Linked DNA regions of Homo sapiens: region 2 is linked to region 1. The links come from fine-mapping of genetic effects on gene expression. Tissue or cell type: thyroid. Region 1 holds a variant in brackets; the other region holds the start of a gene. All regions are shown on one strand. Distances are between the middles of the regions. Region 1 overlaps CATSPERG (catsper channel auxiliary subunit gamma). Region 2 holds the start of CATSPERG (catsper channel auxiliary subunit gamma).

Region 1 (3,011 bases):
CCTGAACATGAACCCGACCTTGCTCTGCAGATGGCCAGGTGTCCTTTGAGATGCTGCCCAGGCAGTGGTCTGTGTGCGAGCAGATAGGAGGTACTCATTACCCCGATGGGTCTGCGGTGGGAGGCTGGGGGAACTGAGGATGCAGAAGAGCAGGGGAGGGTGGCAGGGGTCATGGGAAAGAATGGGCAGTGTCTTAGGGAGGGGTGAGTTATGGGGAGGGGTACAGCTGGCACAGGACCAAGGCTATTGAGCCCTGGGGCGGCTCTGGACTGCCCCTTTCCCTCTCAGTTACCACCTGCTCCATAATTTGGTCTGAATACATCGCGGGTGAGTATACTCTACTGCTGCTGGTGGAGAGTGGATATGGTAATGCAAGTAAACGTTTCCAGGTGGTCAGCTACAACACAGGTAATGAGGGTGATGCAAGGGGCTGGGCACAAAGGGGCAGGATCCCAGACTGTGGACTGCATGCCCATCCTGAGGGATCTGTGCCCAGCAGACAGAGGGAGGGCAACATTACCTGTGTCACTCCTGGTTGAGGAGTAGCAGTGGAGAACAGGATATAGGCTTGGTGATCTGAAAGGGCCCTGTGGCTCACAATAAAGAGATTTTATTTTACCTGCAGTGAGAATAGGGCCCCTATGTAGATTTGTGCAGGCTGTGCAGTGCACAAAACCCCCAACCGAGGGGTCAGAGGAGACAGGTCCTGTGCCTTAACAGGACTGTTTCCTCTCAGGCAGTGCCTTTTTATAATTCACATGAAGAAATTCTAAAGGGCTAGGCAAGGGGCTCACACCTGTAATCCCAGCACTTTGGGAGGCCAAGGCCAGAGGATCCCTTGAGGCCAGGAGTTCAAGACCAGCCTGGGGCAACATGGCAAGAGGCTGTCTCTACAAATTAAAAAAAAAAAAAAAAAAAAAGTAGCTGAGTATGGAGTCGCACCTGTAGTCCCAGCTACTTGGAATATACCTGAGGTGGGAGGATAGCATAAGCCCAGGAGGTTGAGGCTACAGTGAGCTATGATCATGCTACTACCTGGGTGACAGAGCAAGACCCGGTCTCAAAAAAAAAAAAAGAGCAGAGCCAGGCGTGGTGGCTCGTGCTTATAATCCTGGCACTTTGGGACACCAAGGTGGGTGGAATGCTTGAGCTCAGGCGTTCAAGACCAGCCTAGGCAATATAGCGAAACCTCATCTCTACTAAAAATACAAAAATTGGCCGGGCACGGCGGCTCACGCCTGTAATCCCAGCACTCTGGGAGGCCGAGGCGGGGGGATCACCTAAGGTCAGGAGTTCAAGACCAGCCTGACTAACATGGTGAAACCCTGTCTCTACTAAAAATACAAAAATTAGTCGGGCATGATGGTGGGTACCTATAAACCCAGCAACTCAGGAGGCTGAGGTGGAAGAATCACTTGAACCTGGGAGGCAGAGGTTGCAGTGAGCTGAGATCATGCCATTGCACTGCAGCCTGGGCAACAGAGCGAGACTCCATCTCGAAAAAAAAAAAAATTAGCTGGGCATGGTGGTGGTGTGCGCCTATAATCCCAGCTACTCCATAGGCTGAGGTGGGAGGATCACTTGAACCGAGGAGGCAGAAGTTGCAGTGAGCTGAGATCACACCACTGCACTCCAGCCTGGGCGACAGGGAGATCCTGTCTCAGGGGGGAAATAAAAGAAAAGAAACTCTAAGGACTAGCAAACCCGAGTGGGAAGCTCTTTGGAGGGTTTTACAGGAGGCTGAGAAGCAAACAACTTGCTCCAGCT[C/G]CAGGTTTTGAAAGTGCAGGGCCTCAGGAGATTTTGCTGTGTTCTCCCCACCTGTAGCTAGTGATGACCTGGAACTTCTCTACCACATCCCAGAATTCATCCCTGAAGGTAGGAAGGGAAGGCAGACGTGGCCTCAGGGTGGCTGTGGGCCAGGAGGGGCCCAGGTGACTCCACTTCACTGCTGTGTCCTCTCTTCCTCTGCTCCGGTCAGCTCGAGGATTGGAGTTCCTGATGATCCTAGGGACAGAGTCCTACACCAGCACTGCAATGGCCCCCAAGGGCATCTTCTGTAACCCGTACAACAATCTGATCTTCATCTGGGGCAACTTCCTCCTGCAGAGGTGGGCCTCTACCACCCCTGGGTGGGCCAGGCATACTCTGTCTCCCCAGCAACTTTACGGTGGGGACCCTTTCAAGCCCAGGCTAGGCAAGTCTCACCAAGCCTTCAAAGGATGCACAAATCCAGAAGTTACCAGGACTGTGATGAGGAACACACCGTTAGGGTAGTCAGTGCTGGGATGGGGGAAGCCAATGTTTTAAAGCTGTGGGAGCCCTTTTCTTAAAATGAAACCTTATATAAAGACCCAGCCTGTGTGAGCAATAGATGAGCAGTTTCTAGGGTTTTTTTTTGTTTTTGTTTTTGTTTTGGGACAGAGTCTCACTCTGTCACCCAGGCTACAGGACAGTGGCAAAATCTCGGCTCACTGCAGCCCCCGCCTCCCAGATTCAAGCGATTCTCCTGCATCAGACTCCCGAGTAGCTGGGATTACAGCTGCATGCCACCATGCCTGGCTAATTTTTGTATTTTTAGTAGAGACGCGGTTTCACCATGTTGGGCAGGCTGGTCTCAAACTCTTGACCTCAGGTGATCCTCCTGCCTCAGCCTCCGAGAGTGCTGGGATTACAGGTGTGAACCACCATGCCCGGCTAATTGACAAACATTTTCTAGGGACAGTTTAGGATCCTCCCCACCCCAGCCACCCTCTCGACCCTCAGGAACCTAGGGGCCCCTGAGCCACCTTCTTGGGTGGCTGGCAAACTGCCAGGTTGGCCCAATGCTCCTGTTTTACAGATGGGGAGCTGAAGATTCTCAAAGGGTTTGGGGTGGGGGGCGGGAGCTAGGATTTCAAGCTTCCTTTGCATGTTCTTACAAGTGGAGAAACAGTAAGTGGCTCCCGTGTTATTAGGCCTGGGATTGGGGGAAGCGGCTGTCCAGCATGCGCCTAGCTCTCCATCTCTGTCCC
Region 2 (2,712 bases), 22 kb before region 1:
TAGGAACTTGCCAGAAATACAAATTATCAGGCCCCACTCCAGATCTACTGAATGAAAAATTCTGGAAGTAGCCAGGTAGTTACTCAGGAGGCTGAGATGGGAGGCTCACATGAGGCCTGAAATTCAAGGCTAACCTGAGATAGGGTGTTGCTCTTTTGCCCAGGCTGAAATGCAGTGGTGTGATCACAGCTCACTGCATTTCCGTGTATTTCAGAGCTCACTGCAGCCTCAAACTCCTGGGCTCAAGTGGTCTTCCTGCCTCAACCTCCCAGGTAGCTGGGGTCACAGGGATGGACCACCACACTGGGCTAATTTAAAAAAATTGTTAGCAACAGGGTCTTACCATATTGCCCAGGCTGGCCTCAAGCGATCCTCCTACCTCAGCCTCCCAAAGTACTGGGATTACAGGTGTGCAGCACCACATCTGGCTTAATTTTTTTTTTTTTTTTTGAGACAGGGTCTCATTCTGTCGCCCAGGCTGGAGTGCAGTGGAGGGATCTCGGCTCACTGCAACCTCCGCCTCCTGGGTTCAAGCAACTCCTGCCTCAGCCTCCCGAGTAGCTGGGATTACAGGTGCCCGCCGCCATGCCCGGCTAATTGTTGTATTTTTTGGTAGAGACAAGGTTTTATCATGTTGGCCAGGCTGGTATCCAACTTCAGACCTCAAGTGATCCGCCTGCCTCAGCTTTCCAAAGTGCTGGGATTATAGGCATGAGCCACTATGCCCAGCCAGAGACTCCATCTTTAAAACAAAAACAAAAACTCAGGGTGTGGTACCCACCAACCTGGCTTACCCAGCCTTTTAGGTGAGTCTAATGCATGCTCAAATTTGAAAACCACTGGGTTAAACGTCTGGTCTGGAGTTCATCAAAAAGTCATGGCCTGAATCCTTACCTGTAAGGCATCAGAATGCAAATGAAAATTAACTTAATGAATATTTTACTTGAGCCGGGCACACTTCCCACAACAGTATAGGATGGCTGTCCTTGTCCTGTTTTGTAGAGGACGGTGCTAAGCAGCCTATTCATTCTCACAAGGTCTCCAGGAAACCACACTTTTTTAAGGAGTAGAATTTTGGGGTAGGGCCGGGCGCAGTGGCTCACGCCTGTAATCCCAGCACTTTGGGAGGCCGAGGCGGGTGGTTCGCCTGAGGTCAGGAGTCGAGACCAGCCTGGCCAACATGATGAAACCCCGTTTCTACTAAAAATACAAAAAATAAATTAGCCAGGCGTGGTGGCGGGAGCCTATAATCCCAGCTACTCGGGAGGCTGAGGCAGGAGAATCGCTTGAATCCGGGGCAGGGGCGCGGAGGTTTCAGTGAGCCGAAATCGCGCCACTTCACACTCCAGCCTGGGAGAAAGAGCGAAACTCCGTCTCAAAAAAATATATATATATATATATTTGGGTAGGAAGCACAAGTAGGGACCGTGCTTGCTGCCAGAACAACCAATAGAAACTCCTTGAAGGCCTTCCTGGCACAAACGTAGTCTCCAGCACCCTCTGCCGACCAGGCCCCGCGCCCTCAGTGCTGAGACAGCCTCCAGCCCTCGGTGCCTTAGGGGTTGCGCGTCACCTTGGAGACCGCGTGAGAGGAGGGCGTGCCTCTGCAAAGGCGGAAGTCGGCTGTGGAAGTGTGGGCGGCCATTTTGAGACCGGGCAAGAGGGGCGGGACTGGTGCGGCCGAGTGACAGTTGACCGGTTTTAACCAAGTGACTGGTACCACGGGGCCGGGGAAAAAGCTGTGCCATCCAGGGGCGGGGGGATGCCGGGGACGGGGAGGAACTAGGAAGGGGAGGGGAAGGGGAAGGCGAGAAGGGGAGAGGCAGGGGAAAGAGGGGAAGAGTCGTGGGAGCTGGGAGAGGAGGGAAAGAGGGGAAGAGTCGTGGGAGCTGGCAGAGGAGGGAAAGGGGGAGCCGAACGTGAAGGGCGAAGGGCGGGGCGGGGCAGGAGAGTCGGGGTATAGAGCAGGCAGGTGTTAATGGCATGGGAAGGAAGAGTAAGAAGTGGGGCAAGAAGGTGTCGCGGTACGAGGGGAAGGTGAGACTCAAGAAGGTGCCGGCTAAGAAGCTGGTGCCGGCGTGGAAGGAGAAGGTGTGGGGCGAGGAAACAACGAAGGGCGAGGAAAGATCCCGAGGCGAAGAGACAGTTTTCATCGAGAAGGGGCAGGGCGAGGAGGAGGGGCGTTACCAGAGGGCGGGACGGGGCGACGGGCCCGCGCGGGAAGAACCAATCGCCGAGAACCCGGGGAAGGAACGGGTCCATAAAGACCAAGTGGAGGAGTAGGGGCGCGGTCAGGAGCGGAAGCAGAGTGAGGAGCAAGCCCCGGGCGAGAAACGGGGGCCCGGCCGGGAGCAAGAGCAGGGGCGGGGCCGGGAGCAAGAGCAGGGGCGGGGCCCGGAGACGGGCGAGACCAGGTACAGTACCCAGCCCCTGGGCAGACCCCGAGCGAGGAGAAAGCGGCGATACCAAGAGAAGTGCGAGGGTGGGGCAAGAGGTTGGGGCACAGCCGGGTGGAAGTACACGGGTGCGATCGCAGGCAGAAGCAGTACGGGGGAACTTAAGAGGGGGACTGTCAAAGCGAGAAATAGAAACCAAGACCAGGTGAAGAGCAAGAGTGGAATACAGGGAGGGGGCGGAATAAGGAGCAAGGTGAGGATAAAGTTAAAGGAAGAGACGTGGAGGCGGCGGGGCGGAACGAGGCGGAGGAGCAGG

What was found. PIP is the estimated chance that this variant, and not a neighbour inherited with it, causes the effect. A credible set is the group of variants that fine-mapping cannot tell apart.
Region 2: it holds the start of CATSPERG, and the variant in region 1 is the best candidate, but not a certain one, in a credible set for the expression of CATSPERG in thyroid (GTEx, PIP 0.69).

The regions. Positions count from the first base shown.
Region 1 is chr19:38,356,454-38,359,464 of GRCh38, forward strand. It overlaps CATSPERG (catsper channel auxiliary subunit gamma), which reads left to right. Exons shown (of 29, transcript NM_021185.5): 10 at 31-90; 11 at 289-408; 12 at 1,825-1,875; 13 at 1,979-2,108. Among named protein-coding and RNA genes, the nearest start is that of PSMD8, 17 kb to the right of the region's middle. The variant C/G (reference allele first, on the strand shown) is at 1,768.
Region 2 is chr19:38,334,160-38,336,871 of GRCh38, forward strand. It overlaps CATSPERG (catsper channel auxiliary subunit gamma), which reads left to right and starts at 1,671. Exons shown (of 29, transcript NM_021185.5): 1 at 1,671-1,716. RefSeq lists enhancers at 1,410-1,704, 1,509-1,718 and silencers at 1,839-1,918, 2,289-2,458.